2 separate regions of the Homo sapiens genome follow, and region 2 is linked to region 1. Evidence: fine-mapped expression QTL. A gene starts in region 1. The other region holds a variant in brackets. All regions are shown on one strand. Distances are between the middles of the regions. Region 1 holds the start of FANCA (FA complementation group A). Region 2 overlaps FANCA (FA complementation group A).

What was found. PIP is the estimated chance that this variant, and not a neighbour inherited with it, causes the effect.
Region 2: its variant is fine-mapped to the expression of FANCA in testis (GTEx, PIP 0.92).

Annotation. Positions count from the first base shown.
Region 1 is chr16:89,814,056-89,819,568 of GRCh38, reverse strand. FANCA (FA complementation group A) reads left to right here and starts at 2,922. Exons shown (of 43, transcript NM_000135.4): 1 at 2,922-3,032; 2 at 3,583-3,692; 3 at 4,956-5,049. The coding sequence starts at 2,954. RefSeq lists enhancers at 2,259-2,308, 2,694-2,988 and silencers at 2,849-3,138, 3,369-3,418.
Region 2 is chr16:89,759,233-89,764,232 of GRCh38, reverse strand. It overlaps FANCA (FA complementation group A), which reads left to right. Exons shown (of 43, transcript NM_000135.4): 29 at 2,211-2,284. Among named protein-coding and RNA genes, the nearest start is that of ZNF276, 40 kb to the right of the region's middle. The variant G/C (reference allele first, on the strand shown) is at 1,972.

The DNA.
Region 1 (5,513 bases):
GTGGGTGTTCTCCCCATGTACGGAGAAGAGAGATTGTAATAAATAAAGACACAAGACCAAGAAATAAAGAGAAAACAGCTGGGCCCCGGGGACCACTACCATCAAGACGCGGAGACTGGTAGCGGCCCCGAACGGCTAGGCTCTTTGATATCTATTGCATACATGACAAGGGGGCAGCGTAAGGAAGGTGAATCTTCTAAGTGATTGACAAGGTGAAGCATGTCACGTGATTACAGGATGGGGGCCCTTCCCTTTCAGGTAGGTGAAGCAGAGAAAGAAGGCAGCATACGTCAGCATTTTCTTCTCTGCACTTATAAGAAAGATCAAAGACTTTAAGACTTTCACTATTTCTTCTACCGCTATCTACTACGAACTTCAAAGACGAACCAGAAGTAAGGGAGGAACATGAAAGTGGACAAGGAGCGTGACCAGTGAAGCACCACAGGGAGGGGTTTAGGCCTCCGGATGACTGCGTGCAGGCCTGGATAACATCCAGCCTCCCACAAGAAGCTGGTGGAGCAGAGTGTTCCCTGACTCCTCCAAGCAAAGGAGACTCCCTTTCATGGTCTGCTAAGTAACGGGTGCCTTCCCAGACACTGGCGTTACCGCTTGACCAAGGAGCCCTCAAGCGGCCCTTATGCGGGCATGACAGAAGGTTCACCTCTTGCCTTCCACTCACTTCTCACAATGTCCTTTCAGCACCTGACCCTATACCCACCGGTTATTCCTAGGTTATATTAGTAATGCAACAAACAGTAATATTAAAAGCTAATGATTAATGTTTATAATAATTGATAATTGTCCATGATCATCTCCATAATTTGTATTATGACTGTTCTTATTGTAACGATTTTATTATACTGAAATAGTTTGTGCCTTCGGTCTCTTGCCTCGGCACCTGGGTAATTCTCCGCCCACAGGACTACAGGCTCGTGTCACCACACTGGGCAATACAAAAAATACAAAAAAAAAATTTTGTATTTTTTGTAGAGACGAGGTCTTGCCATATTGCCCAGGCTGGAATTCTTACCTTTGTTACTGTATTTAACGTATCTTTTTCCTCCGGCCATCTTCATGGTTTTCTCTCTGATTTCCACAGTTTGAATACACTGCATGTGTCAGGCAGGGGCTCATATTTATCAAGTTTTGTGTGTGCTCTGAGCTCAGGTCTTTCATTATTTTGGGAAAATTATTGGTAATTTTCTCTTCAAACATTTTTTATGATTTGTTCTTTCTTCTTCTTTTGGGAGTCCTATTACATGCATATGATATCATTTGATATTTTCCCACAGTTCTTGGATGCTTTTTTTAAAAAAAAACTTTTTTTCTTCTTTATTTTCCAACGTGGGTAATTCCTATTTTTCTCAGCTGTGTTGATCCTACTGCTGCCCCATCAGAAAAATTACCTGTTATCAGCGTTCTTCCTTTCTTATAATTTGATGAGTTTCCTCCTCATGCATATTGTTCACCTTTCGTACAAGAGACCTCCACATATTAATCACAGTTAATTTAAATTTCCAGCCTGTTTCAATTTCTCGATCACCTCTGAGTCTAGTCCTGTTAATTGCTTAGTGTTATTTTTTGTTTTTGAAACAGGGTCTTGCTCTGTTGCCCAGGCTGGAGTGCAGCGGCGCGATCTCAGGCTGTTCCCTGAGTTCACACCATCCCCCTCAACCAGCAGATTGCAAAGTGTCCGAGTCGGGCCGTGCAGGAGTCTTTGTGGGGGTTTCATGGACTCCGAATTCTCATTTCTGCTCCATCCCCATCTCATGAATCCAAGGCCCCACTCTGTGCCTCGGCTCTTCGTTTGTGGTGCTGAACGTCATCTACGTCATCTACGCCATCTACGTAATCAACACAATAAAGACGCCTGCCGGGAACGCGGCCCTTCGGCTGAATCCCTTCGGTGGTTCCAAGGCCACTGCCAGAGGATGCGGACGGGTCTCCAGGGCCTCTACTTACCCAGGACTTTGAGGCACATTAGCTTCGCCTAGGCACTCGCTTTTACGAATTCTTATGTTTGGTTTTGTTTTGAGACAGAGTCTCGCTCTGCCGCCCAGGCTGGTTAAAAGATAGGGTCTCAGCCGGGTGCGGTGGCTCACGCCTGTAATCCCAGCACTTTGGGAGGCCGAGGCGGGCGGATCACCTGAGGTCCGGAGTTCGAGACTAGCCTGGGCCAACATGGCGAAACGCTGTCTCTACTAAAAATAACAAAAATCATCCAGGCGTGGTGGCGCGCACCTGCAATCCCAGCTACTCGGGAGGCTGAGGCAGGAGAATCACCTGAACCCAGGAGGCAGACGTTGCAGTGAGCCGAGATCGCGCCACTGCACTCCAGCCTGGGCGACAGAGGGAGACTCCGTCTCAAAAAAAGGAAAAAAAAAAAAAAGAAAAGAAACAAAAGTGATGGGGTCTCGCTCTGTTGCCCAGGCTAGTCTGGAATTCCTGGGCTCAAGCGACCCTCCAGCCTCGGCCTCCCAAAGCGCTGGGAATACAGGCGCGGCTACCGCGCGGTCTCCGGCTGCCGAAACACCGCCCTGCGCGCGGACCGTTCGGCCGCCGGGAGGAACAGCGGCTGCCCGGAGCTCAGAGGCGCGCGCGGCTTTGCGCTCCCCGCGGCGCTCTGAGCCTGCCTCGGCTTGGTTGGCCAGGTGGTCTCTTCAGGACCAACCCCAGTCATTCCCGGCAGGAACCACGCTTGAGGGGCGGCAGTCTGCCCGCGCGAGACGCCCCCGCGGACTACACCGCGGCGGCAAAGCCAAACGCAAAAACTACCTCACCGCGCGCAGGCGCCTCCCCCAGGACCAACATGGCCACGACGCAAGGCCTCGACCTGAGGGGCGTGGCCTGGCCGCCGCCAGCCAACGGGTGTGCGCGCCTGGCCGCAGCCAATAGGAAGGCAGCGCGGGCTCGGGCGCAGGGAGCCGCCGCCGGGGCTGTAGGCGCCAAGGCCATGTCCGACTCGTGGGTCCCGAACTCCGCCTCGGGCCAGGACCCAGGGGGCCGCCGGAGGGCCTGGGCCGAGCTGCTGGGTAGGTGGGCGCGGCAGGCCGCGGGAGTGGGCGGCGTCCGGCCCGGGACGGTTTCGCCGGTTCCCCGATCCCTTCCCGCCAGAGCCTCCGCCGGTCGGATCCCCGGACGCCGCGCCCGGGGGGCTGTGCGGGGTGGGCGCCCGGCTGGGGCGGCGCGGCTGCCTCGGACCCGGCCCCTCCTGCGCCTGGGCGGACGCCCCCAGCCGCCGCCCGCGGGGCGCTCCCTTCTTTCCCGAACGCCGCCCCCGCCGGCCGCCCTGTCAGGCGGGCCTGGGGTGCGCGGCCTGGGGCTCCCCTCAGCGCAGAGGCCGCCCCTCGCCAGCCGTCCCCGGGCTCCCCTGCCTCGGGCCCTCCTGGGCCGTCTTCCCCGGCGTCCGCGGTGGGGCCGTCTCCGTTAGTTTCCCGAGACCTGCGCCCTGGGGAGGAGCCCCGGCCCCTCTTCGGGAGGGTGTCGCTGGTGGGTTTCTCCGCGGCGTCCACCTGCGCGTCGGGCCGGGGACCCCGTGTGTGAATTGTGCTGTGATGGTTTCGAACCGACTTCTCTCCGTAGCGGGAAGGGTCAAGAGGGAAAAATATAATCCTGAAAGGGCACAGAAATTAAAGGAATCAGCTGTGCGCCTCCTGCGAAGCCATCAGGACCTGAATGCCCTTTTGCTTGAGGTAAGAGGAAGCTGGTGTCCGTCTGCGGGCAGATTTAGGTTCGGGGTTTTTGAGTCCAGCCACCGCACAGCTTTCCTAAGAAAACACCCGAGGCGGCGGGCGCGGTGGCCTGGCCCGCAGAGGGGAGGGTCGCCTGAGCCCGGGAGTTCTGGACCAACCTGGGCAACGGGGTGAGACCCCGCCTCTTTTATTAAAAACAAAACAACAACAACAAAAAAACAGGCCGGGCGCCGTGGCTCAGGGCTGTAATCCCAGCTTTTGGGGAGGCCAAGGCGGGTGGATCACTCAGGGTCAGGAGTTCGAGACCAGCCTGGCCAACATAGTGAAACCCGGTCTCTACTGAAAATACAAAAATTAGCTGGGTGTGGTGGCGCACGCCTTTAATCCCAGCTACTCGGGAGCCTGAGGCAGGAGAATTGCTTGAACCTGGACCCGGGAGGCAGAAATTGCAGTGAGCCGAGATCACGCCCCTTGCAATCCAGTCTGGATTACAGAGTGAGACTGTCTCACAAAAAAAAAAAAAAAAAAAAAAAAAAAAAAAGCCGGGCGTGGTGGCTCACGCCTGTAATCCTAGCCCTTTGGGAGGCCGAAGTGGGTAGATCACTTGAGGTTAGGAGTTCGAGACCAGCCTGACCAACATGGTGAAACCCCGTCACTACTTAAAATACAAAAATTAGCCGGGTATGGTAGCAGGTGTCTGTAATCCCAGCTGCTCAGGAGGCTGAGGCAGGAGAATCGCTTGAACCTGGGAGGTGGAGGTCGCCGTGAGTGAGATCCCGCCATTGCACTCCAGCCTGGACGACAGTGAGACTCCCTCTCAAAAAAGAAAAAAAGGAAAATAGCCCAGTAGGGAAGCATTACTTACACACAGGTTGTGTTTATGCACAGATCTTGAATTTTTTTTATTTTTATTTTTTATTTTCATTTATTTTTTTTGAGACAAAGTCTCACACTGTAGCCTGGGCTGGTATGCAGTGGGGTGATCTCGGCTCACTGCAGCCTCCACCTCCCGGGTTTAAGTGATTCTCCCGTCTCAGCCTCCCGAGTGGCTGGGACTACAGGCACGCGCCACCATGCCCTCCTAATTTTTGTATTTTTAGTAGAGACAGGGTTTCACTATGTTGGCCAGGCTGGTCTCGAACTCTTGACCTCGTGATCTGCCCATCTCGGCCTCCCAAAGTACTGGGATTACAGGCGTGAGCCACTACGCCTGGCCTGGAGCTTGAATTTTTTAAATGGAGTTTGTTGTGTTTTGGATTCTAGGTAGAAGGTCCACTGTGTAAAAAATTGTCTCTCAGCAAAGTGATTGACTGTGACAGTTCTGAGGCCTATGCTAATCATTCTAGTTCATTTATAGGTAAGTTATAGCTTCATTTTCTCTATTTTGAATTGCAGAAGGGTTTTTATATAGTAACCATAGTTTGCTAAATTAAGTAGAAATGTAAATTTTCTCAGGCGATGGGTTTCCACTGGTGTGTGTAGTCGCAAATTCTATGGGATGTTTGTGTGACTTGCTCTTGGGCTTCTTACGATGCTGTGTTTAAAAACAGCGTCTGATTCAACCTGCGACTCAGAAGCAGTAGGACCCAGAGTGTCCCTTGGAAAAACATGGGACATAGCAACAGCAGGGATGTGCCCCTTGCTCATGGAAGTAGTGAGACAGGCTGTGGTGTGCCCAGGAGAGCAGACGGGAGAACAATTTTCTAGGTACCTCCTTCTCCCCCCAGTTTGAGAGTGGGAGATAGGGTAAGTTCTGGGTCAACAACAGTAAGTTATTTTCTGATCCTTCACGTCCTTATGTGATGACTTGTTTCTGTTAAA
Region 2 (5,000 bases), 55 kb after region 1:
TTTTTTGAGACAACGTCTCGCTGTGCTCAGTGGTGCAGTCTTGGCTCACTGCAGCCTCTGCCTCCTGGGTTCAAGCAATTCTCATGCCTCAGCCTCTCCAGTAGCTGGGACTACAGGCGCCTGCCACCACGCCCGACTAATTTTGGTATCTTTAGTACAGACGGGGTTTCACCATGTTGTCCAGGCTGGTCTTAAACTCCTGGCCTCAAATTACCCACACGCCTTGGCCTCCCAAAATGCTGGAATTACAGGCGTGAGCCATTGCGCCCGAGAACTTGTTTTTTGTTGTTGTTGTTGTTTTGTTTTTTTTTTCTGGTGGAGTCTTACTCTGGGGCACAGTGGCGCAATCTTGGCTCACTGCAGCCTCTGCCTCTCTGGTTCAAGTGATTCTCCTGCCTCAGCCTCCCAAGTAGCTGGGACTACAGGCGCGCACCACCACGCCTGGCTAAGTTTTGTATTTTTAGTAGAGATGGGGTTTCACCATGTTAGGCTGGTCTCGACCTCCTGACCTCGTGATCTGCCCGCCTTGGCCTCCCAAAGTGCTGGGATTACAGGTGTGAGCCACTGCGCTCGGCCCCTGGGAACTTGTTTTAAACATGTCTGCCAGGCTGTGTGGTGGTCACTCAGGGTCTCTGGGCTCACCCATGTGTGCCTGGTTACTGGAGCTGGCATTGCTCTCACCAGTGTGCCTTGGTACTGATTTATTTCTGAGGATGTTTGCCTGGTTGTTTTGGTCTTTAGAAAAGAATTTCAAGGTGGCTGGGCACAGTGGCTCATGCCTATAATCCCAGCACTTTGGGAGGCTGAGATGTCAGGAGATTGAGACCATCCTGGGTAACACGATGAAGCCCCATCTCTACTAAAAATAGGAAAAAGTGATCCTTCTGCTTTGGCCTGCCAATATGTTGAGATTGCAAGTGTGAGCCACTGTGCCAAGCCTTTTGTGAAATTATTTTATTATTTTTAAATTATTATTTTTTTTTTTGGAGATGGAATCTTCCTCTGTTGCCCAGGCTGGAGTGCAGTGGCACAATCTTGGGTCACTGCAACCTCAGCCTTCTGGGTTCAAGGGATTCTCCTGACTCGGCCTCCCAAGTAGCTGGGACCACAGGTGCACGCCACCGCGCCCAGCTAACTTTTTGTATTTTTAGTAGAGATGGGGTTTCACTGTGTTAGCCAGGATGGTCTCAATCTCCTGACCTCATCATCCTCCCGCCTCGGCCTCCCAAAGTGCTGGGATTACAGGTGTGAGCCACCACGCCCAACCCTTTTTTTTTTTTTTTTTCGTATTTTTAGTAGAAACAGGGTTTCACCGTGTTAGCTAGGATGGTCTCAATCTGCTGACCTCGTGATCTGCCTGCCTCGGCCTCCCAAAGTGCTGGGATTACAGGCATGAGCCACCGTGCTCGGCCTCCTAAAAATGTTTTTAAAAAACTTAGCTGGTCATGGTGATGTGCACCTGCAGTCCCAGCCATCTGAGAGGCTGAGGGGGAGAATTCTGGAGTTCAGGAGGCAGAGTCTGCAGCGAGCTACGATTGCACCACTGCACACACTCCAGCCTGGGCAACAGAACCTGTTTCCAAAAATAAATGAAGGTATGCTACTGTGAATAGCTGTAGAATGTTGTTGTTTTGTTAGTTTCTTTTTTCTTTTTTTTTTTTTTCCTTTTTATAGATAGTTCTCACTCTGTTACTCACTGCAGCCTTGACCTCCTGGGCTCAAGAGATCCTCCTGCCTCAGCCTCCCAAGAGGCTGGGACCACACACATGTGCCACCACACCTGGCTGATTTTTAAATCTTTTGTAGAGACGGGGTGTCACCATGTTGCCTAGGCTGGTGTCAAACTCCTAGGCTCAAGCAATCTGCTGGCCTCAGCCTCCCAAAGTGCTGGGATTACAGGCATGAGCCACCGTGCCCAGGTAATTTTTAAATGAGATGAGGTCTTACTATGTTGCCCAGACTAAAATAGCC[G/C]TTTTATACTTAGAAAGAAGGATTACAGTACTAACATCTTTGTGCTAGGGAAATCCTGTAAGAAATCATTCTTGATAAAACTAAGGTTTCTTTCCTGTGGAACTCTCAGCTGCAATTTCATTATAACACAGGGACATGGAGGACTGCGTATGAGATGAAATGACAAACTGGTTTATAAACCTGTCGGTGGATTGTGTGTTCTGTCCTCATTGTATTGAATTGCTTGCTCTCTTTCTCAGTTAACTTACCAAGACTGGTTACACCTGGAGCTGGAAATTCAACCTGAAGCTGATGCTCTTTCAGATACTGAACGGTAAGTGTTGAAAAGAGCTACCCTGGCCAGGCATGATGGCTCACACCTATAATCCCAGCACTTTGGGAGGCTGAGGCAGGAGATCTCTTGAATCCAGGAGTTTGAGGTCAGCCTGGGCAACATGGGGAAACTCCATTTCTACAAAAAATAGAAAAGAAATTAGCCGGACATGCGGCACGTTCCAGTCATCACAGCCACTTGGGAAGCTGAGCAGGAGCATTGCTTGAGCCTGGGAGGTAGAGGCTGCAGCGAGCTGAGATCACACCACTGCACTTTAGCCTGTGCAACGGAGTGAGACCCTATCTCAAAAGAAAAAGGAGCTTCCCTTTAAAATGTTACACGGTTTTCCACATTGCCTTAAAGCCTATGTTTCGTCATTTTATCCTCAATTTAATGTTTGGTTTACCTGTTAATCTTTGAGCACAATTTCAATTTTTTTTTTTTCGGTGGCAAGATTTATTAAAGCAAAAGCGAAAGTAAAGCTTCCACGCGGTGGCAATTTCTGTTTTTCTTTTTTTTTTTTTTTTTCTGAGACAGAGTCTTGCTCTGTCACCCAGGCTGGAATGCAGTGGCGCGATCTCGGCTCACTGCAACCTCCACCTCCCGGGTTCACGCCATTCTCCTGGCTCAGCCTCCCGAGTAGCTGGGACTACAGGCGCCCGCCACCATACCCAGCTAATTTTTTGTATTTTTGGTAGAGACGGGGTTTCACCGTGTTAACCAGGGTGGTCTCAATCTCCTGACCTCGTGATCCACTTGCCTTGGCCTCCCAAAGTGCTGGCATTACAGGCGTGAGCCACCGCGCCTGGCCAGGTTGCCCAATTTCGGTTGTTATTCCTTTATTTAAGAAACATTTACTGAGCTCCTACCATGTGGCAGACAATTCTAGAGTGTTCTAGAAGCAGGGAGTATAGAGGGGAATAAACAAGCCTGCCCATATGGCACCTTTGTATCAATGAGGGCAGATGTGGCACGTATAAGGCACCCACTTAGACTTCACCCTACCCTGGCTGGGCTATGGCTGCTGTCCGGGAGCTGTACACCTGTGTCCAGGCCCTGGCAACACACAGGTAGATACAGAAGTGGATTAAAGGTAGGAATGAGCCCTGGAGATAACAGACAGGGCCGTGTGAGAGGAAATGACCAGGCAGGAGCAGAGGCTGGTGTGGAGCAGGTGGTGCAGACTTTGAGGAGTGATGCCAGCCTTGACTTGGGGGCACCAAGAAGTGGGTAAATGAAGCAGTGAACCCCCATGAGTCCCAGGGCTGATGACTGAGACCATTTGAGACTATTTGAGAGGCCAGATGTGCTGTTCTGGGCATAGGAGTAGGGAGCCCAGAGGACCGTTGGGTTTAAGGGTGTGGAGTTTAGGGTGGAGGTCAGGGAGAGGGGAATGTGGTCACTGCAGATATGGAGTATCCTGGTGGGTATATGGGCCTCAGGGTGCCTGCCACACCTAGACTCAGGAGAGGGTTGGCAACAGCCACCCTGTGCTCCTCGTCCTTCCGGCCATCAGGGGCCTTCCAGGCACATGCAGCACTGTCGCCTGCACCTGGATCCTGGTATCAGATTCTGGATGAAACCAATGGAAGTAATAGGAAAAGGAAAACATAGGGGCCACAAAAAGAAAACTCGCTGCTGCCTGCGGCAAAACACGTGCTGATGGTTCAGGTCGTGCCAAGCCCGCTCTGCAGGCGCTTCCTTCACTCACCCCCGTTTCTCCTCCCGGCTGCTCTCTGGGGTGGAGTCTAAGGAGGAGGTCAGAGGGAGGGGCTTGTCTGCTGCATGAGGTCATGCTGCATCAGGTCACCGCTGCGTGGAAGTTGTGTTGAGATGTGTTGCGGGATTTTCTTTCTTTTCTGAATTACTTAAGTGATACTTAGATACATTCTGTGCCAGTTCCAGACAGTGTGGGTGGAGCACCCCAGTTCCGGACAGCGTGGGTGGAGCACCCCGGTCCCGGACAGCGTGGGTGGAGCACCCCGGTCCCGCACAGCGTGGGTGGAGCACCCAGGTCCCGCACAGCGTGGGTGGAGCACCCCAGTCCCGGACAGTGTGAGGAGAGCACACACTCCCTAGCACTCACATTTGCAGGGTCGTGTGGAGCGTTTTCCTGGTTGTGGCTCTTTCTGCATAAATGGATTGCGGTATTGATGGTTCTGTGCACTGCGGATTTGTTTGTTTGTTTGAGACAGGGTCTCACTCTGTTGGCCAGGATGGAGTACAGTGATGCACTCACGGCTCACGGCAGCTTCCCTCTCCAGAGCTCGAGTGATCCTCCTGCCTCAGCCTCCTGAGTAGCTGGGACCACAGGTGGGCACTACTATGCCCAGCTAATTTTTTTATTTTTTGTAGGAATGGGGTCTCCCTTTGTTGCTCAGGCTGATGTCAGACTCCTGGGCTCAAGTGATCCTCCCACCTTGGCCTCCCACAGTGCTGGGATTACAGGTGTAGCCACTGCAGTTTTGAGTCAGTGTCTCCTTGAGCCCCTTCCCATCCGTATCCACAGAGTCCACAGTCTGGATGCAGGTTGCTTCACCATCCCCTTCTGGTGGGCCTGTGAGTAGCTCAGGTGCCCTCAGGTGACTTTCCAGGCTACTTTTTTTTTTTTTTTTTTTTTTTTTTTTTTTAGACGGAGTCTCGCTCTGTTGCCCAAGCAGGAGTGCAGTGGCATGATCTCAGCTCACTGCAAGCTCCACCTCCCAGGTTCATACCA